3 linked regions of the Homo sapiens genome follow. The protein of the gene in region 3 interacts with the protein of the main gene of each other region in a pairwise test. Each region holds a gene or a part of one and is shown on either strand. Other genes may lie near its edges.

Region 1 (7,022 bases), on a different chromosome or scaffold from region 3:
TGGGTGCTTTATTTACCCTGATGTGATGAGTGTGCATTGCATGCCCGTATCCAAATATCTTGTGTACCCCATAAATATATACACTGACTATGTACTCATAAAGATTAAAACCAAAAATGCTGACGTGGCCATGGGGTGACCCTGAGAAAGAGTGAGTTGAGTGTGGCAGGGCAGGTGCCCTGTTCGCTGACACGTCAGATTGTACCTGGGGCCTGTGGTCATCGCTGGGCACCACCCAGCAGTAGGGAAAGTGGCAAATGGAACTTGTGCAAGAGTGACTCACCCAGAAGGAAGGTGGGGAGACTAAAACCATGTCATTTAGAAATAGCTGAAGGAATGAGAAGTCCCTTCAGACCTAGGGGGACACCTGGTATCTGTCCTCAGATTTCGGAAGGGAATATTACTACTAATACTCATGATAATCGGAGCTCACATGTATTAAATGCTCTGTGCCAAACTCTATTCCAAGCACTTCACATGCAAATCTTAAATTACCCTACAACATACATACCATTATGATCTTCACTTTATAGATGAGACAGCTGTAAATGGACTAAGAAATGTGAGTTTCATTAGAAGGTAATGGAGGGAAATATGGCATGTGTTACCATAAGTTAGCCTCAGTAGGAGGAAGAGCTGTCTGACATGATAATATCCCCCCGAAAGGAAGGTGGAAATGGCCAGAAGGAAGATAATTAAAACCACATGTATTGAGCATCTACCCTATGCCAGACATGGCCTTTGGAGCTCCCCATGTATTATTTTGGTTAATCCTCACAACCACTGTGTGAGAGAAGAATTATTATTCCCGTTTTACAAATGAGGAAATTGAAGCCCAGAGACATTAAATAAATCTAAGAACTTTCCACCAGTAAGTGACAGCCCAGATTTGAATACAGGTATGTGTGGTTCTCAAGTCTACTGTCATTGGTGTTCAGAGCAAAGGTGGAGGCGCACAGGTGGCCCCGGGGCACAGAACCAGGCTGGTTCCCCTGCTAGACACTCCTATAGCAGCCTGAATTTCACAAGTTGTGACACATTCATCTGCTGGTAACTTTTGTTGCTTGTCTTCCCCGTTAGACTGCAAGATCCACGTGGGCGGGGGCTCCATGGGTCCTGTGCAGTGCTGTACTCCTAGGCACTAGAAATATTTGAAAAAATGAATGAATACCAGTAGAGATCTCTTGTTCAGACAGGGGAAGTTAAAATAAGGATAATGAATCTCCTATTGGGATGTTATCGGGAGATTCTTATGTTAAATTAGGAATGGATTATCAGCAGTTGTAATCCCAGTATATTTTCAGAAATACTGGACAGATTTTTTTTTTTTTTTTTTGAGACAGAGTCTCTCTCTGTTGCCAGGCTGGAGTGCAATGGTGTGATCTCAGCTCACTGCAACCTCCACCTCCCAGGTTCAAGCCATTCCCCTGAGTCAGCCTCCCAAGTAACTGGGATTACAGGTGCCTGCCACCACATCTGGCTAATTTTTTGTATTTCAGTAAATATGGGCTTTCACCATGTTGGTCAGGATGGTCTTAATCTCCTGACCTTGTGATCCACTCACCTCAGCCTCCCAAGAGAGATTTTTATACATACAGATTCCTAGGCCTATATCAGCCCCCTAGAATCAGACTTTCCTGGAGCAGGACCTGTACCTGTATATTGCATCATTTCCTGGTTGATTTGCTACCTGGCCAGCTGAGGGACCTTGGAGGATGGGTCTAAAGTCCACCTGAGATACTGGGATTCCTGACCCCCAACATCTGCCCCTGGGACTCATTTCCCACTTCCTGTTGCCTCTGCCCAAGCTTCTCTCTGCCTTCTGGGCTTCAAGGCCAGGCCTTGCTCGTGGCTGGAGCCTGGAGGGAGGTCTGGTGCCGAGTCAGGCATGGGACCTTATCAGCTGGGTATTTACTGAGCAAAGTTCAACCAGGGCAGTGCTGCAGATCCGGGTTTAACAGATACCTAGGCTTCCGGGACTTTGATTCAGAGCCCAGGTCCCTGGGGCCCTTATCGGTGGATAATAATGGGCTCCCTGTGGAAGTCCTAAGGTCTAGTGTTTCTTGGCTGACCCAGGCCTGCTCTCTGAGAGCCCAGGATCCCTAGGCCACAGGCTGTCTAGGTGGGCAGCTTGTTGCTTCCCAGCCACGGCTGCTTTTCAGTTGCTCTCCCAGGCCAGGAAGGGCCCTATGCACTGGCTCTTATTTGGGTCAATGCTTTGGTTTCCTGGCTTTGATGGCAAGAGGGGAAGGAAACCTTCCCTCAGCAGCAGGTGGACACTGTCTGGCCCCAGGGTACAAGGATCACCCTTGGGTAATTGTCCCATGCCCTGAAAGTCACTGAGAACCTGGGAGCCACTTGCCTCAATCCTAAAGGTGTAGGAGAGGTGAAGGGAAGACAAATGGCAGCATGTCTTAAAGAATCACCCAATCGATTAATCAATAAGTATCAACTGAGCTTAAAACGCATGGGCATGCCACTGGGAAGACATAGAGAAATAAGGTACAATAACTCACCTTGAGACGTTTATAATCTAGTTGTGGGTATAAGACACTTCCATCAAAAAGAATAACTATTACATAATAGACTGAATTTTTTTGAATGCCTACCCTGTACCTGAATTTATTTGAGGCATATACTGTTCTACCAATTTCCCACATCAAGTGACTTCTCTCAATATTCCTTTGATAAAGAAACTGAAGATTAAGAGGCACAGAGAGGTTTAGTAACTTGCCCAGGATCACACAGGAAGGTGGTGGCAGGGGCAGGATTTGAGGCCTGTGCTATCTGGCTCAGAGTCCCTGCTCTTATGGCTGTCCTCTACTGCCACCTATGATGAATACTAATCAGATCTGGAAATGTTTGAGAAGCTGTAGAATGTGGAAATTACTCAGGCTGCAGGGGTCAGGCAGGAGGGTTGCATTTGTCTTGTGTCAGCAAGAATCAAGAGGTTGGAAGAAGTGAGAGGGAATTCTGACCACGGAAAACCTCAACCACAGATGAGGAGGTGAGACACGCAGGAACACGTAGAGAACACAGACAGACCTTCTGGTTGGAGACAGGGTTTGTGTAGTAGGGAGTGTGCAAAGTGGTGAGAAAAATGGGTTCGGATCTCATTCTGAAGACTGTCCAATTCTAGGACAAGGAGCTGGGCCTTCGTTGTCTGGGTGCAGGGGACCCACAGAAGGTTTGGGAGTAGGAGGAGTGACAATACTGGAGAGGCATTCTAGGAAGTGTCACGTGGTTCTCCGTGTTCAAGCACGACTTAGGGGAGCAGGCAGATCCATGAGGAAATGAGCACTTTGGGGTGGGGGCTCGTCTGAGAAGGACCATGGGCTCCAGGGACATTGCTTTTCACAGCCACAGCTCCGGAGCAAGCCCCAGCCCCGGCCCGGCCATACCAGGGCGTCCGTGTGAAGGAGCCAGTGAAGGAACTGCTGAGGAGGAAGCGAGGCCACGCCAGCAGTGGGGCAGCACCTGCACCTACGGCGGTGAGAGTTTGTGTGTGTGAGAGTGTGAGTGTGTGTGTGTGAAAGAGAATGTGTGTGTCAGGGATAGTGTGAGAGTGTATGTGTGTGTGAGTATGTGTATGCGTGTGTGTATGTGTTTGTGTGTGATAGAGTGTGTGAGAGTGTGATAGTGTGAGAGAGAATGTGTATCTGCGTCAGTGTGTGAGAGTGTATGTGTGTGTGAGGGAGTGTGAGTGTGTGAGTGTATGCATGTGAGTGTGTATGTGTTTGTGTGTGATGGCGTGTGTGAGTGTGTGATAGTGTGAGAGAGAATGTGTATGTGTCAGTGTGTGAGAATGTATGTGTGTGAGAGAGTGTGTGTGTGTGAGAGTGAGTGTGAGAGTGTGAGCGTGTGTGTGAGAGAGTATGTGTGTGAGGGAGTGTGTGTGAGAGAGTGTGTGAGTGTGTGAGAGTGTGAGTGTGAGAGTGTGAGAGTGTGTGAGAGAGTACGTGTGTGAGAGAGTGTGTGTGTTTGTGTGAGAATGTGTGTGCGCGCAGGCAGATGGCTTGGGAGGTGACCAAAAGGATCAGGCAGGAAGGAGCGCAGGTCCCTTGGTGGAGGCTGCCAGGGATAGAGCTAGGGTGGAGCAACTGGGATGAGGGATCAGGGCCGGCTCAGCTGGCCCACCGAACACAGCTACTGTCAAGGCCTGAGTGAGCGAATGACTTGCATACCCTGGTGTGAGTTGGGGGCCCCCCCTGAGAAGAAGAAGACACCAGCTCCCTGAGCGCACAGACTTCCTGCTAAATAGAAACGCAAATCTCTCAAGTGTAGGTGGTGATGGTTGGGATACGGGGTGGGATGTTTTGTTCTAACCAGAGAGATTCCTATCTTCTATTCTCCTGCCCTGAGGCCCTCTGGGCAAGTTCTCTGCACAGGGCCGGTTGACGAGGGCTAAACATTGACCCTGGTCTTCTCCTCTCCCCTCTAGGTGGTGCTGCCCCATCAGCCCCTGGCGACCTACACCACAGTGGGTAAGAGTGCCCCGTAGCCCTGGTGGCCCCCAGGCCTCTCATCTGGGTGGCATCTGAAGTTCTGTAATTTCCTTCTTCCCACAGGTCCTTCCTGCCTGGACATGGAAGGTTCTGTGTCTGCAGTGACAGAGGAGGCTGCCCTGTGTGCCGGCTGGCTCTCCCAGCCCACCCCGGCCACCCTGCAGCCCCTGGCCCCATGGACACCTTACACCGAGTATGTGCCCCATGAAGCTGTCAGCTGCCCCTACTCAGCTGACATGTATGTGCAGCCCGTGTGCCCCAGCTACACGGTGGTGGGGCCCTCCTCAGTGTTGACCTATGCCTCTCCGCCACTCATCACCAATGTCACGGTATGTCACACAAAGGCAGGACTGCACCCGCCCATGCTGAGTGCACCCTTTTATAACCAGAGCTGACTTCTCGATCCTGATCTTCCTTGCTATTGATTCTCAAGATAATCAGGTCATCAGAGCTCGCCTTGGTCTCCATGGAGGCCTGCTCTGATTCTCATTTCCTGAGATAACTTCCACAAAGATGTCTCGCAGCCTCTCTCGTCATACTTTCTGCTCCTCAGGACTGGGGAGGTCTTCTCTGATTCCCTGTTCTAAATCTCCCCAGCTTCCCTGCAAGCAGTGAGTCTTGGTTCTGAGTTGAAGTTTTTAGTGAATGTGGCACCAGGCGAGATCTACATGGGGTCTTGTGTTGGAACTAGCCTTTCATTTCTATTCAGATAACTTAGGGAGTGATTGTTCACTTAATAATGGGGTTTAACAGAAGATTTCTAGGCTGAACAACAGGTGATATTTTTGATGGTGTCAGACCCACGTGTGGGGTAATTTTTTAAAGTTCTGTCTCTACTGTCAGATTGCCTTGTTCAAATCCCTGTCCCTTCACTTACTAGCTATGTGACTCTGGGTTTAGTGACTTAAAACTCTCTGAGCCTCAGTGTCCTCATCTGTAAAATGGGAATACCAAGAAAAGGGTCGTTGTCAGGATCAAATGAAATAATGAGTGTGGAGGGCTTAGCACAGTGTCTGGCATACAGAAACCACTAATATATGTTAGTTATCATCATATCAAAATCTGCTAACATTAACCAAGGGCTTGATGGGAAAGGAAGAGCCTCTTCCCCCGGGAATGAAGGAAGGAAGGGAAATAGATTTATGTTAATGATTCCTGTTCGACTAAAGGACTGGGAATTTTGCAAGTATTCAAGGGCAAAAAGACCTGTGGTTACAGCTGTATCCAGCTCCAGTCCAGGGAAACCGTGGGAAGTAGAGCTGGGCCTTGAGCAGTCCCAGAGCCCACCTTCGATGGTGGTGCTTGCTTTGGTCCACCTTGTCTCTTCCATTTCCCTCCAGGGTCCAGTGTCATCCTGATGCACCTGCCCCTGCCTCCAAGCACCTTCTATGAAAGGCCTGCAGAAGCCCTTCCCTCCCAGGTCCACCTGCCTACCCAGCAAACCAATTTTGGAGCCTGGATGATGATAGATAAGAAGGAGTTAATCCAACACCTCTCCCAGGCAACTCATTTCCATGTCAGAGGCCTGGGGTGAGGGTGGTGGGTGGAGGACTCACGGCTCCCACCCATTTCATTACCAAGGATTCCTTTCATTATTTATCCCCTTTCATCATTCCCACCTTCTGCTTTGAAAGGTTCTGTATATCAAACAAACAGTATTCATTAAGAATTGATTTATTTGTTTTGCCATTTTGTAAATTAAGTCATCAAAGCTGGCTAGAGCTGTAAGTCCACACTCCTGATCAGCAGAGATAAGACCTGCTGTGTGCTGAGTGGAAGTAATTGTATTCCCGAGCAAAGAAACCTATAGTTACAGGTTTATGACTGGGAAATGTAGAATTTCCATCTGGATTTTTGAAAAGCTGGGAATCATGAGGCTTTCCCGGATTCTGTCTGGTTTCAGGACACTGGGATGGGGACCACTGGCTTAAGTCAAAGGAGAGGAAGTGATTATGCTGTGGTGGGGTGTACACCTCAGCCCGGATTTCAGGAGGCTGGAAGGCCTCTGAGACCATTTCCAGCTCTATCATTCTGTGCAAAAACACCCTAAAGCCTTGCTACTCAAACTCTTGTCCCTGGACTGGCCACATTGGAGTCCCCCTGAGATCTGATTAGACATGCAAAATCCCAGGCCCCACTCTAGACTTCCTGTGCCAGAAGCTGCGTTCTAACAAGATCCCCAGGAGGTTGAGAAAAGCCCTGCCCTAAATGATTCTAACAGTTTGCTGTCAAGACACAGTGACAGTAGGAGGGATATATGACAGGGGAGACAGGGATGGTAGGGGGAGATTTTGGCCTCCCTCTCATGAATCCATGCAGAGAGCATCCTCTTCTATCTGCTTTCCTCAAGTGTGAAAGAAAAGTAAGAATCCAGGTCCCGCCCCTGTTGCAGGCCTGATCTGAGGTTTGTGAGGGCAGTCGCCGTGCAGGTGAGAGGTATGACTCGCAGAGCATTCAGGAGAAGGACTCTAACACTTGGAGGGTCATGGGGGGTGCCCATAAGTGGGATGGCCATGG
Region 2 (6,837 bases), about 30 Mb from region 3:
CCCACCATGAATGACGTCCGAGTAGGGTTGGAACTCGAAGCCCGAACGCACTGGAAATGCAGCCGGACGACGGCTGGGATCCGAGTGGGTCCGGGCCAGAAATGGGGACCTCAGAGCTCCACCGAGGCGCTCGAGGTCAGAACTGAAGCCTGAGACTTAGGCAGGACCCGAGACAGAGCCAGAGACGATACCGAAACCCAATGGACCGCGAGGACCGAAGGCAGATCCGGGGCGCAAACCTGTGCAGGCACTGGCGCGCTGCCTGGAGCTCTGGGTTCGCGCCGCTGAGCGCCGGCAGGTTGGACCAGCGCTGCGCGCCGGAAGTGCACTCGGGACGCCGGGGTTCTGGAGGAGAGACCACACGCCGCAAAAGTGGCCTCCGAATGCGCCCGGGGCCTGCCCTCGGCGACACTGCTGGCTCGGCGGCCGCAGCCTACCTGAAGTAGTCCATCTTGCAGAAGATCTCCTTGTTCTTGATGTAGCAGCTGTTCTGCTGCCTCAGCGACGTGCGACACACGGAGCACTCGAGGCACCGCACGTGCCAGATGAGGTTGTTGACCTGGGGACGGGGCGGGGACGGAGGTCGGCTCAGCGCGGGCCTCTTTCACTCCGGGCCCCAGCCTTCCCGGTCTCATTTACAGTCAGAGGCGCTGAAGCTCAGAAGGTGCATGCGATTCCCCTATTTTTCTCCCGTAATACTGAGACTCAGGGAAATGGAAATAAACTCTTCTTATTTTTCAGACGGAACCCGGGGGCTCAGGCAGACCCTAAGTCTTGCCCAAAGCTTCGCAGTCGGGCAGCAGTGGAGCCAGGATTTGGAAGTAAGAGGACCTGCGGTGCTTCCCTGCAGTCTCCTGCGCTGCGTCCCACGCCCCGACAACACGCACGCAACACCTACCCCTGTCTCACCTTGAGCAGATATCGGTCCAGGATCTCGAGGCCGCAGCTGGAGCAGATGTTCTTGCCTGCAGACGGCACGGAGGAGGCGGCAGAGGGCGGTGAGCAGACAGATGGCGTGCTGGGCGTACATGGGGAGGCCTGACCCTCGTCCTTGTCCAGAGCTCCTGCCAGGGCCTCGGCGTCAGACTGAGCCTGCGGCGGGGGAGAGAAGGAGAGGAGCGCTGATCCGGGCACCCAGAGTTGGGGCTGCCTTGGAGACAAATCTGGGGCCCCCGAGCACCAATTGACAACGAAATCTCCCCAGGACAATGCGCCGTAGACTGAAGGACAGGGATGGAAGGGCCTATTGGAGAGGAAGGGACGGCCCCAACTTTTAACACGCGCATTCTGGGTGCTGGGAGCGGTTAAAGCCAACATTCCCTGCCGGAAAACCGAGGCTCAGAGAGGGGCGGCGCCCGCCGGGAGTCCCCCAGAGCGTGAGCAGCAGTTCGTGGCCGGAAAACCTGGCCAGGTCCCCAGGGCCGGGCCGCTGGAGGACTGGGCACCGCAGGCAGGGCCAAACGGACTCACCATGGCGGGCGGCGCGGTCCCTTCAAGACAGCGGGTGGTCGCTTTGCAGCCGGACCCTGGCTGGGCCATCACCTGGGGGAGGGGGGGAGGGAACGCAGGCGGCGGCGGCTGCTGAACTGGCTCCGCACAGCCTGAGCCCAGCGCCTCCCCGCGCCTGTTATATAAACCGGCGCCGAACAATGAGTCCTAACTTTGTAGTGGGCATTTAAAGCCCTTCCCCACAAAAGCGGTGTCTCTCTAATGAAGCAATTTGAATTTGGATTGGATTTTTTCCCTCTCTCTCCCCCTCTCCCTGCACTTAACCCGTGGCTCTTGAAGTAATCGCTTAGTTCCCTTGCAATCCAAGCCTCTGAGGGGGGAAGAAAAACACGCGCACACACACACAAACTACCTGCAATTAGAAATTGTCGTGAATGCCCAAGATAAGAGGTAGCCAGAGTGTCAATTCCAACTGTCAATCAGTGAGATCCATCAGGCCGCCCAAAGAATTGCAAATTTGATTTTTTAATGGTAGTAATTAAAAATCGAATTTTTTCTCTCTCCACCCGCCCCCCCACCCCACTCCCCTTCCTCGCTCCCTTCTCCTCTCGGCACAAAATGCAAAAAGGAGAAAAGAGAGAAAGAAAGAAAATAAAAAAGAGATGGGTGAGGGGCGGAGGGTGGTTGAAGAAAAGAAAACCCCGAGCGCGGTGAGCACCCGCCCGCCCGCCCGCCTGACACGCGCGGCGAAATTGAAGCAGCTATATTGACACGGATTCAGGCGCCTTTCGAGGGCCAGTCGGAGGGAAACCCGGAGCAAAAAGAGAGCGAGATCGGGGCGAAACGGGACCAAAAAGAGAAAAGAGAGGCGCTCAAGGGGAGGAAAAAGCACCCTCCAGCCCCTCGGCGCGCCGGGTACCGGCCCCGCGTCGGGATTCTCAGCGCTGCGCCGGCACAACCCCCGGCGCATCGGCGCTATCAGCGCCTATTCAGACGGACAATACCGGCCTCGCCTCCTCTTGATTCGCCTGTGTCTTTACTAAATCGCTTTTTGAGAAATTCCTCCAACATTTGCATAATGTGTTCCCGCTTTCCGCGACCCCCCCCCCCCGCTCGCGCGCGCGCTCCCACACTCACAAGCACACACTCACAGGCGCACCCTCGTACCCCTCCTTCCTGCAACCGCCCGCCACCCTGCTCGGCCCGGCTGGGTCCCGGACCCTGCCCGACCCCGGCCCGGGCCGCTCACCCAGTCGTTCGCCGGCTCACCTGGTCGGTGGCGGGGCCGCCCTCGGCCGGCAGCCGGCAGCCCTCGGGCAACGCCGGGGCGGCGTTCTCATGCTTCCAGTACATGGGCCGGGGAACCTCGGGCTCAGCGGGCGCGCAGCGCGGAGAGCTGCGCCGAGGGGGACCACAGCCGCAGTGGGAGCAGAGGCTGCTGCAGGAGCAGGAGGAGAGCCGAGGCGCCGGCCCCGCCGCCCCGGGCCCGGCCTCAGCCCCCGCCCCCGGCCCGCGCGCAGCCCCGGCCTCCCTGGCTGCTGCCGCCGCTGCCTCGGAAGAAGGTCCCGACAAACTTGGAGAGGCCCCCGCCCCCTCCTTCTTCTCCTCCTCCCCCTCTTGGTAGTCCTCCTCCTCCTCTCCCTCCTCCTTGTCCTCCTCCCCCTCCAGCTGCAACGGCGGCCGCCCTGCCGCTGGAGCCCCGCTCGGTTCAAGATGAGTCATGCGTGACCAATCCCCTCCCCGCCAAGGGAGAGCAAGACACACACGACGAGGCAGAGACCCAGAGAGAGAGACACACACACAGACACAGAGACACACAGAAACTCAGAGCTGCCGACAGAGAGACTCGGAGACACGCCAGTACACAAAGGCACCGGCGGGCACACATCCACCCAGCTCTCACTACCGCTCCTCCCTCAAGGGGCACCCATCTTCCTCAGACACTGCCCCACTCACAGGTACAGGAGGGACCCATGGCCATACCATCTGCGGAGATAGATTCCGTAGGAGGTCACACGTTATTACACTGTGTTGATGCAATCCCATGCCTGGTACATTTGTGTACACACTAATGTAAGTGATTACCTGTTCACATCATTTACACGGGCACGAGGCACCACACTTACTCTCACACACCTGCACAGATACCTCTGCTCTATAAGAACCAGACAGTGCACCAGCTCCCAGGGACTGAGGTGAAACGGGAGGGTAGTTTCCCTGAATTCTCTTGGAAGGGATTGCTTGGCACATTCCCCTTCCCTTCAGGATTTGCTTAACCACACAGTCCAATGCCCATCCCTTCTTCTCTAGGGTTCTACTGACAATGAGAATGGTAGGGAAGGCAGGAAGGCCCAGGCATTTAGACAGAAGACACTGCCCCCAGACACACAGACACAGAACCTTCAAACCCAAAGATGGAGCCTTACACACACTAACGCCCTGCAGCATACACAAGTGGACACTTAGAGTCTCAGCCCCCTTCTCCACACACAAACTGAGCCTAAAGAGACACATGTAAACATACATCATCTAAAAACAAATAAGCACACTCAGACATAGATCCAGCCCTACAGACACCATGACAGCCTACCCTCACCACATCACACATGTCATCACCTCCATAATTGCCCTCATTTACAGATGTAAACACCCCCCCACACACAATTGTTCTTCCATTTGTACACACAGCCATACTCAAGAGGGCACAGATTTTCACAGAGCTCCAAACCCATGTATAACCTTATGTCCTCTACTCAGGCACCCTCAAATATGTACTTACATCCTTACAGATGGTGAGACAACTATTGATAGGCATTTATAGGCAGACACATCACACACACTTCTGCAGCCATAGATTCCCAATAGTTATAGTCTCAGTTTGCACACACACAGGCAGGTTCTGACAGGCGCAGGTAGTAGAGGATGCCTGCACACCAACACGATACTAAAGATCCACACCCATATTCCCCAAAGATACAAATATCTGTTCCTTTACTGGCATCAAGGTACACAAAAATAGCCCCAGCCTCAGCTAATGGCATTTCCCGCCCTCTGCATCCCAGTCATTCATTGCTCTCAGACACAGAAATTCAGAGTGAAAAGAGTTTCTCTTTGAACCCTAATCTTTTATACGAAGAGAACAAGTTGCAATGTGAAAGCGGGTGAGGTGTATGCATAGGTACACATGTGTACACACATACACATGCATTCTCAAACATGAATACAGAAGAACAACCCCTCCCTCTCAAATATCTCCTTTGCACATAATAATTTCAGCTACTACTGGGATTATTCCCAGTTATTACAGCTACTAATCTGTGCCAGGCATGATACGAGGCATTTTACAATCGTGATCTCATTTTCTTTTCACAATAATCCCGTGAGGTAGCATCTCTCAGCGTGCTTGTTTTACTGATCAAGAGACTGAGGTTCAGAGAGTTCATGTGATATATCCAAAATGGTGCACATGGCTAATTGCCAGAACCAAGGACTTAAAACCACATTCATCTCACATTAGAGCTCATACTCTTGATTTCTAGGCTGCAGACATGACCATGTTTACTTTCTGCACACACACATGTGCACACACACACACACACACACATACACACACACTCCACATTATCTGTTAAAAGACCTGGATGTGACTCCCAGCCTCACCACTTATAGGCTCAGCCTGTTTTCTCATCGGCAAAATGGGAATAACAATAGGACCTGCTTTACCTCCTTCTCTTCCTCCCCTTTGGGTGGCTGGGGGAATTGAAAGGTTAATAAACGTTATAGAATGCTGCACATATGCCAGATTTGTGAGTGCAGAAGGGCCCCAGGAAAGAAGACCATGAAGATCGTACTGGCTTTGCAAAACTTCTTAGACATGAGCCATGGAAGAGGCTTGAGCTAAAACTAAAGGGCAGGTGAAATTTGGATGGGTTCAGGGAGAAGAAGAAAGTATTTCAGGTAGAGAGAGGACCACAAAGGTTCAGAGGCTGGACAAACAAGCTGCTGCACTCTAATGAGGGGGAATGTGAAGCATGTGCTCCTAGAGTGATAACAATAATAACTATTTATTGAGCATTTATGTGCTAAGCCCTTTGTTGTTTACACGCATTATCCTCTTTAATCCTTGCAACTACCCTACAAAAAGGTTATATTATTATCTTTCTTTTATAGTTGAGGAAACAAGCTTACAGGAGTCCCATCTGAAGCTCTGGCACTCAGATTTTAGAACCCAAACTCTTACCTACTATGCAATTCTGCTCCTGAATTCTGATTAAGTGCTCAGATAATAAAAACTGGAGTAAGAGGCAGTAAAGTCAGTAGTGAAGCACAAAGACTCTAGGGCCAGATGGCCTTGATGCCAACCTTGGCATCTGTTTTCTATTCCCTTTATTACTTTATTACTTGGGTAACCCTGGACAAGTTCTTCAGCCACTCATCAGCCTCAGTTTCCTCATCTGTAAAGTGGGGATAACCGAGTTCAACTCCTATGGTTGTGAAAATTACGCAAATGATCCATGTAATAGGGCTCAGAAATATGCCAGGCACACAGTAAGCAAATGATAAACAGCCATCATTATGGCAATGGACCGGCTGAATCTTGTGGTTGTGATTCTACTAGGTACTACATCAAATTCTTTATGAAGGCAGGGGATGAATCAACCAAAAAAAATCAAATCTTCTCCTGAATAACTTACCTAAGGAAGATGCAGAACCATTATTCGAGCCCAGAACTTGCCTAACTTCAAAGAGGACAGAAGTGAAATTACTTTGGAAAAGAAATCTCTCTTCCAATGACTCCTGACTCCATCTTTTTCCATCAGGAAAAAGAGTCCAGATAGGAGTGACCTTGGCAAAATTAGGATTAGCAAACATAGTACCTTCCATTAGGATACTTGATTTCTTCCTATGACAAACTGTGGGTCACTTTGAGTCACTTAGCTTCTCTGAGCCTCAGTTCCTCACCTGCAAAACGGGGAATAATGATACTGACCTCTCAGAATTGAAGTGACAACTAACTATACATTAAAAACTAATATTTTGGCTGGGTGCAGTGGCTTATGCCTGTAATCCCAGCACTTTGGGAGGCCAAGGTGGGTGGATCACAAGGTCAGGAGATCAAGCCCATCCTGGCCAACATAGTGAAACTCAGTCTCTCCTAAAAATACAAAAATTAGCCGGGTGTGGTGGCAGGTGGCTATAGTCCCAGCTAGTCGGGAGGCTGAGGGCTGAGGCAGGAGAATTGCTTGAACCTGGGAGGCAGAGGCTGCAGTGAGCCGAGATTGCACCACTGCACTCCAGCCTGGCAACAGAGTGACACTCGATCTCAAAAAAAAAAAAAAAAAAAAAAAAAAAGAACTAATATTTTTTAAAGTGTTGTAGATTTATTCA
Region 3 (7,428 bases):
AAACGAGACAAGCATCTCCGGCTAGGGTGATGGTGATAGAGAGAGAGGACGGGAGGCAGAGGGCATTGGGTGGAGACCAAAGGCCGTGATGCTAAGTGCACATAGGAGAGAGGGCAAGGAGGGGGTTGGGCTTCTGATCTTGTGGAACTACACGGATGATGGTGCCATCAAGTGCAGGAGGGAACGTGGGAAAAAGATGAGGTTTGGGGCAGGGTTTGGGGTAGGGCGATGTAGAGCTTGAGTCCATGATTTAAATAACTTGAGTTTGAGGTGCCATTGGGACAGTCATGTGGAAACGCCAGGCAGGCAGCTGCAAATGTAAGTTTGGAGGTCAGGGGAGCATGCCAGGCTGGAGTTACAGATTTAGGAGGTGCTGGGCACATAGGTGACATTGGAAGCCATGAGCTTGGAAGAGATTTCCCACCGGGAGAGTGTGGAGCAAGATGAGAGGATGGCAGAGGACCAAGACCAGCATAATCACCAAGTGGAAGAGGTTAAGGTGCAAAGAAGAACAAGGAGAAATGGCTAAATAAGTAGAAGCAAAACCAGGAGCTCTTGATATCATACAAGCCGAGGGAAAACATGTTTTGAAGAGGGAATGGTCTAGGGTAAAATGCTGCAGAGAGACTGCGTGAGAGAAGAACAAAAATGTATGTTGGTTCAGTACATGGATGACCACACCCAGCTGCTTGTGTGGATTCAGGGTGGCAGACTGGCAAGGAGTGTGGAGTGAGGAAATGAAGCCATTGTGTTTGACACGTCTGGCGATTTATCTTGTTTGCAGTGGGATATTTGTAGAGCTCCCTGCTAGTGGAGCAGAAGGGTACAATTCAGCTGAGGATTTCCTAACTGAAAAAGTAATAAGCAAGTGAAAAACTCTACCACACTGGTCTGCATGTATTCCTCACAAAAGCGCGGTGGGCCCAAGGCCTTGGACTGTAGTCACCTACTTTCCACGTCCACGCAGTGAAGTTTGGTATGCCCAGATACTCCATATCGTTTTTTTTTTTTTTTTTGTAGCGGGGGAGGGGTCTGATTTGGTATTTATTGAAACTCAAAAAGCACTACCTACAAATGAAAGAATGGATAAACTGGACTTCAGCAGAATGAAAAACCGCAACTTATGAAAAGACATCATTAAAAAAATGAAAACTAGCCAGAAACTGGAAGAAAATATATCTGTCTCTTTGAGTTTTCACTCAGAACATACAAAAAAGAGCTCTAAAAACTTTTTTTTGTTTTGTTTTGGAGACAGGATCTCACTCTGCAGCCCAGGCTGGAGTGCAGTTGTGCAATCATAGCTCACTGCAGCCTCGTACTCCTTGGGCCCAGGTGATCCTCCCATCTCAGCCTCCCGAGTAGCTGGGACTACAGACGCTCACCACCATTCCTGGCTAATTTTAAATTATTGTTTGTAGAGACAAGCTCTCACTATGTTGCCCAGGCTGGTCTCGAACCCTTAGGCTCAAGTGATCCTCCCACCTCGGCCTCCCAAAGTATAGGGATTAGAGGCAAAAGCCACCATGCCTGGGCAACACTTGAAAAGAAGAAGGCATCCAACCTTATGAAAAAATCAGAGAAGAAAAGAAATTCCATGATTTGAGGGAGACAAAGAATAAAAATAAAAATAAATCAGCAAAAATTTGACTAGACATCTGACAAAAGAAGGTAGGCTAACGGCCAATAAGCATAAGAAAAAATATAGAATATGACTCCTCATCAGGAAAATGTGAATTAAACCACATAATTTAACCACCCAGGTCTCAGATATCCCAGGATACCCCTGGCCTTGAAATCTTCACACTGGCTCTTCACTCCAGCTCAAATACTCTTCCCAGATATGTGCATGGCTCCCTCCTTTCTTAAGGCCTGCAAGGGCTTGTTCCCGCCGGTCTTGCTAGTATAGACCCTGCTCATTTTCTCTCCCTCTTGCTTGCTGTTCATCACAAGGATGAAAATGGCTGTCCCCATACAGCTGGTGTGGTGTCAGCCTCCAGTGATTCCTATCTCTTGGTATATATAAACCTGTTTAGTTTCCTTCTATGACAAAGGGCCCACCCATGGAGCCAATAGATACTGCAGAAATTATGGCATGTGACTTCCAAGGCTAGGCTATAAAAGACACTGTGGCTTCTATCTGGCTCTCTTTTGGATTGCTCACTTTGGGAGAAGCTAGAAGCCATCTTGTGAGGATGCCCAAGAAGCCCACGTGGCTACAAACTGAGTCTTCCCATCCACACCTAGCACTAACTTGCTGAGCATGTGAGTAATCCACCTTGTGAGACTCCTCTAGCCCCAGCGAGCCTTCAGATAATGGCAGCACTGGCTGACATCTGACTGCAACCTCCTGAGAGACCCTGAGCCAGCACCATCTAGCTAAGTCTCTCCTGCCTTCTCGACCCAGAGAAATGGTGTGAAATAACGAATGTTTACTGTTTTTAGCTGTTAAATCGTGGGGCAATTTGTTATGTGGCAATTGATGACTAATACAGATGGAAAGGAATATGTTGCTCCAATTTGGCCTTGGACGTAAGCCATATTCTCTTAACCACTGAGAAAGCTTGTATTTTCATCCTTCCAACTTTGCTTTTTTTGTTTATCCTTCAGTTCAGAACCTACAGAAAGGGAAGGAGAGAGTGAGAGAGAAATGCCAAAAAAGAAAGCTTTAAAAGGCTTTTAAGAAATCATATGCAATATAACCCACATTTCTGACTCCACCCAAGAAACTGTCAGCAAAATATATGTTGCTGTTTAAACCTTTGAGTTGGGTTTGTGGGGCCTCAGTCATGTGAAAATAACACACAGATGGGGGCATGATGAGGTCATTTTCCTGAAGGTCACACAAAAATAAATGGCAGGGCTGCTGATGAAATGGTTCTGGAGCCACATGCTCACGCTGTGTGAAGTGGAAAGCAAAGGTGCTGGGACCACCTTCTCCGAGCTGCACAGCACCACGGAAAGGACACAGCATTGCTGAGGGAGGGGTTTTCCAGGGCAGGTTCAAGACCCTTCTCTGCAGCCCCTGTTGGGTTTTCCCTAGATCCAGAAGAGAGGGGTGTGGAACTAAGTGCTTCAGCACCTACTCTTAAAACATTACTCTAAAAGCATCCTTAAGGATTCTAAGGGAAGCTAAAGGGAGGAAAACCCCAAAGATAAACCCCTGGCAGTCCTCTAACCACTGGGGAGAGCAGCCCCCCCGTTCAGACCCGCACCAGCCTGGGCAGAGGAACAGCCTGAGCCCGTCTAAGAAGTTTGGTAATAATTTTGCCATCCAGTTGAGGAGGGGCTAGGATCTTCTCCCATTCTCCTACTGGATTTACAGCAGCTCCTGGGAATGAGAACTGCGTGAGATATTTCCCTACACAAATTGGGTAGAGATAGCCGGACGCCTAAATACTTTTAACAGAGGTAACAAGCTAGAGCTGGCTTAGTCATTTTGTCCGCAGACCATAGCAAGAGAGTTTTTATTTCTGGCCACGTCTGAGGCCTCACGTCTGGCACCCAAGGCCAGGGCTCTCCCTAATGCCCTCCAATTAACAGAGCTTGGTACTCCAGCAAAAACACCAAACAAACTGCTGGATAATCAGTTAAAAGATCAATCTCATGGAACAAGCAACTGAGATGCTGGAGAATCCAATTCCTTCCTCTAAGAGGAAAAACAAAGACATTTGCATGTGCTGAGCAAAACCAAGAATAAGCAAGAAAACATGCTATTTGAATTCCGTTCAAAATGTCTCTAATAAGTGAAGCAAATTCTGCACATTCTGGGCCTCTGCAGAGAACAAATAGTGTTCTGCCTTTAATGGGTAAAATTATACAATTTGCTTTTAACAGTAAACCAAAAGCCGCGGTGGCTTCGGATAGCATCGCGCTCCCGAGGGCTCCCTCCACGCAGCTCGACCCCTGGCAGTTTTGAGCATTTCGGGGGACGCGCTTGTCCCCACCGACCTGGGAGGGCGCCGGTGCCAAGGCGGCCTGTTTGTTTTCCTGAACATTTCCTTTTGCAACTTTCGCTTCTCCTCTTCCTGCCTCACCGCTGGTGTCTGGGGCTGGGTGGCTCTCAGATTTGTCCCGGTGCGCAGTGCAGCCTGGAGTTACTGATTTGTGACCTAGATCCCCGGGTGTGTCGCCCCCGAAAGTCGGGGGCACCCGCTCTGGGCGCCTCTCCTGCGTGGGCAGACCCGCCGAACTCCGGCTGACGCCCCCAAGGCGCCACCTTTGTGTTCAAGCGTTCCGAGGCGCAGGCCCGAGGGCGGGCGCAGGAGGCAGGTCCGGGGCCCCAGCTGCAGCCCCAGCTCCTTGGGTCCCGCCCGCCGCCCGCGCGTTCCCCCGGCAGGGGGCGCCGGCGCAAGCCTCGCTCTGCCCATCGGGGCGGGCGAGCGGGGACCCTGCCTCCTGCGCGCTCGCCCGCGGTCCGCCCCCCGCGCTCGTCCTGGCGGCCGGCGGGACGCCCCAGCCCGCGCCAAGGAACCTCCCCAGCCAGCCCTTGCCGTGGCCGGAGCCGAGCGGCGCATCCGGGCCGGAGAAGAGGACGACGACGAGGTCCTCGAAGTGGACCCGTTTGCGAAGCGCCAGGGAGAAGGAGGAGCGGACGCATCGTAGAAAGGGGTGGTGGCGCCCGACCCCGCGCCCCGGCCCGAAGCTCTGAGGGCTTCCCGGCCCCCACTGCCTGCGGCATGGCCCGGGGCTCGGCGCTCCCGCGGCGGCCGCTGCTGTGCATCCCGGCCGTCTGGGCGGCCGCCGCGCTTCTGCTCTCAGTGTCCCGGACTTCAGGTAGGATCTGGCGTTCCGGCTTGTGCGCAGACGGTAGCTCACGGCTCGCTTGGCCAGCCCTTCCGCCGCCACTATGCTCCCGGCCGCTGCGCCGGCGCCCATGCTCCTGAACGAGGGGCGCCAGGCAGGGCCATTCGCATCTCGCCCGACGCCGCTCCCGGCCCGCACCCCGGACCCCCTCGGGCTGGTTACAATAAGCCGCGCTCTGGGGACGCCTAAGTGTTTCCAGAGTCTGGGGGCGGGCGGCGGCGGCTGGGAGCCTCTCGGTGGCGCTTCCCGAGGGTCGCGAGTGGGAGTGCGAGTGTGAATGTGAGTACCCGCCCTGGGCCCGGGACCCGAGTCCGCAGATGTGCCCCGAGGGTCCCAGGACCCGGGCTTCCTCCCCGAGGTCTTCCTCCTTCAAGGGCACACGGCCCCGAGTGTCCCCCGTCTGTCTCGGAGCGTCCCCCCACCCCCAGGGCGGCCTGATGCCTGGCAGAATCCTGGGGTGGACGTGGCCCCGGAGAAGCGGCTCTTGCGGCGGGGGTGGGGGCGCCGGCGGCTCCCGGGTCCTGACTTTCCCAGCCCGCGGGCCGCTTGATGGAAACGGGCTCTTTGGCATCCCTTTTGTTGGTCCCTGAAACCTCCTCTCCCCCACCGCTCTGGGGTGGCCGAAGTGGTGTGTGATCTGGATTGAAATGGTTTGTGACTGGGATCGCGGGTCCCTGAGCGGCTGGGGCGCGGCCGCCTTCTGGCCGCGCCGGGGGGACCCCCGGGACCTGTAGGAGGCTGGCGGCGGGAGGGGCGGGGCCCGGCTCCTAGGTGGGTTTCCTCCCGGGGCCCCACTTCCCCCGAGTCCCTGCGCGGTTTCGGCTGCTTGGATCCGGGGCGCAGAGGAACGGCGGGGAGGTTCGGAAGTGCAGCTTGGGACCTGCCTAGGTTGCCTGGAGGAGGCGGCGTTAGCTCTGGCGGTGCAGACTCCGGGAGCACCTCCCGCCCGCGCGCCTCGGGCCGGATTCTCGGCACCCTGCGGGGGTGGAGGAGGGCGGGCGGGGCCTTCAGGCCCAGGAGCGCCAGAGACCTATGGGGTTCGCCTGAAGCCCCCGGAATGTGTGAGACACTTCTTACTAGTAAATGGGCTTCAGTATCCCCCATCCCTGCACTCCTGCAGGAAGGTGAGAATCGGGACAGTCGCAGGCTGGGAGACGCTCTGCTTTTCCTGCGTCCTGCTGGGAGCTGCGCGCTCCAGGTATCCTGGCCTGCCGCCCTAGCCGGCCCAAGGTACGCGAGTCAGAAAGGCTGCACAGTCTTTCCTGGGGGGGGGTTTTAGTTTAAGCAGATGTTGATTACGTCAGACATTCCTAATTACTTGATTTGGGAAGGGAGCTTGCGTTTATCTCACTGTGCATTAAAGCATAAACCGCTCAGAGTGCACAATAAAATAAGTAGACCACATTCTAAGTTGGTATCCATCACTCAAGACCTCTGTCGATTTCTGCAACCCCTCCCCCAAGAATCTCCCAGGAGATCCCTTTGCTGGGGGAGAGGGGTGGCGGGGAGGCGGCTTAAACACGTTGCTGGACGTGCTGTTGGGCGGCTTTTGCTGTTCACCCTGCGGTTAATTGTCCTACAAAAACTCTGCCTTGCAGACCATGAGGGTTGAGCGCAGCCTTTGAGGGGCGGTGCTGTGGTGGGGGTTTTTAGATGGGTGATGAGGAAAGCATGATGGGTCCATTGCTTAAGCCAAGGTGGTTGTAACAGGAAAGTTCCTTGAGTTTTGGGTGAAGGAATTTAAACACTCATAGTTTCCAGTGAATGTACAAATGTCTTATATGAACAAAGCAATTGGAGTCGTTTTCTTTAATTTTTGAACCCTGTTCTTTTTCTAGTGAAATACTCATAATCTTTATAGGAGAGGGCATAGGATATAATTCTCTTCGTTCTGTATGGCTAGGTTAACAAAATCCAAAGAGTATGATAATTTTTATTCAAAATAATAATAAAATTATATGATTACAGGAGATTTGAGTGTTTGGGATCTTTTCTGCTGTGAAAAGAGGAGTCCCTGTTATTTGAGTGTGTTTTATCCACGAAATAATTTATTATGTAAAACTATTTAGGGGTTTTTCTAAAAGGATTTGTAAGTTCTTATTCCACATTTTAATAGCAAGACTCTGTTTCCTCTGATGACAAATACTGATTTGGGACTATATACCAATCCTAGGTAGGGTAGGTGGGGAACGATGGAGCATTAGGGTCCCCCCAGCCCCCATTTTTGGCAGTGTAGTGTTTACTTTTGGCCCAGATCCCTGGAGTGATGGTGGTAATAAATAATGATAGTGATCCGTCTAGAAGAAATCCATCTAGAAGAAAATAAATGGAAACATCTTGAATAAGAAGACTTTGTGGAAAAAGAAAAGTTTTTATGTATATAGTAAGGCAACATATTTTTCTTATTACGGCTGTGTACCAAGCACAGAGCTACACATTTGAAATTTTTCAGTATAATTGTGAGATCCTGCTTAACTCTCATGTCCACTTCATAAAGCATGTCACCCTGAAAATCTGATCGCCGTGGACCCTATGTGACACTCAGTGTAACTGAGAGGGCTCTGGAAAGCCAAGCTGAACTTTTAATTAGTAAAGCAAATCATGGAAAACTGACAAGTCTGCTTT

What was found. The genes of interacting proteins can lie anywhere in the genome.
Region 1: the proteins of ROR2 (region 3) and POU2AF1 interact in binary tests that used the Homo sapiens proteins (3 or more experiments, as listed by UniProt).
Region 2: the proteins of ROR2 (region 3) and LHX6 interact in binary tests that used the Homo sapiens proteins (3 or more experiments, as listed by UniProt).

Annotation. Positions count from the first base shown.
Region 1 is NC_000011.10:111,355,257-111,362,278, reverse strand, and holds part of POU2AF1 (POU domain class 2-associating factor 1), read left to right. Parts: intron 1-2,888; exon of another isoform or gene 2,889-3,007; intron 3,008-3,360; coding exon 3,361-3,491; intron 3,492-4,441; coding exon 4,442-4,484; intron 4,485-4,568; coding exon 4,569-4,834; intron 4,835-5,845; coding exon of another isoform or gene 5,846-5,863; exon of another isoform or gene 5,864-7,022. UniProt on the Homo sapiens protein: Transcriptional coactivator that specifically associates with either POU2F1/OCT1 or POU2F2/OCT2. It boosts the POU2F1/OCT1 mediated promoter activity and to a lesser extent, that of POU2F2/OCT2. It recognizes the POU domains of POU2F1/OCT1 and POU2F2/OCT2.
Region 2 is NC_000009.12:122,225,939-122,232,775, forward strand, and holds the start of LHX6 (LIM/homeobox protein Lhx6), read right to left. Parts: upstream 3,020-6,837; 5' UTR 2,803-3,019; coding exon 2,719-2,802; intron 2,496-2,718; exon of another isoform or gene 2,420-2,495; coding exon of another isoform or gene 2,369-2,419; exon of another isoform or gene 1,862-2,368; intron 1,604-1,861; exon of another isoform or gene 1,543-1,603; coding exon 1,471-1,542; intron 1,093-1,470; coding exon 910-1,092; intron 560-909; coding exon 438-559; intron 1-437. UniProt on the Homo sapiens protein: Probable transcription factor required for the expression of a subset of genes involved in interneurons migration and development.
Region 3 is NC_000009.12:91,947,212-91,954,639, reverse strand, and holds the start of ROR2 (tyrosine-protein kinase transmembrane receptor ROR2 isoform 1 precursor), read left to right. Parts: upstream 1-4,411; 5' UTR 4,412-4,676; coding exon 4,677-4,773; intron 4,774-5,911; exon of another isoform or gene 5,912-6,033; intron 6,034-7,428. UniProt on the Homo sapiens protein: Tyrosine-protein kinase receptor which may be involved in the early formation of the chondrocytes. It seems to be required for cartilage and growth plate development. Phosphorylates YWHAB, leading to induction of osteogenesis and bone formation.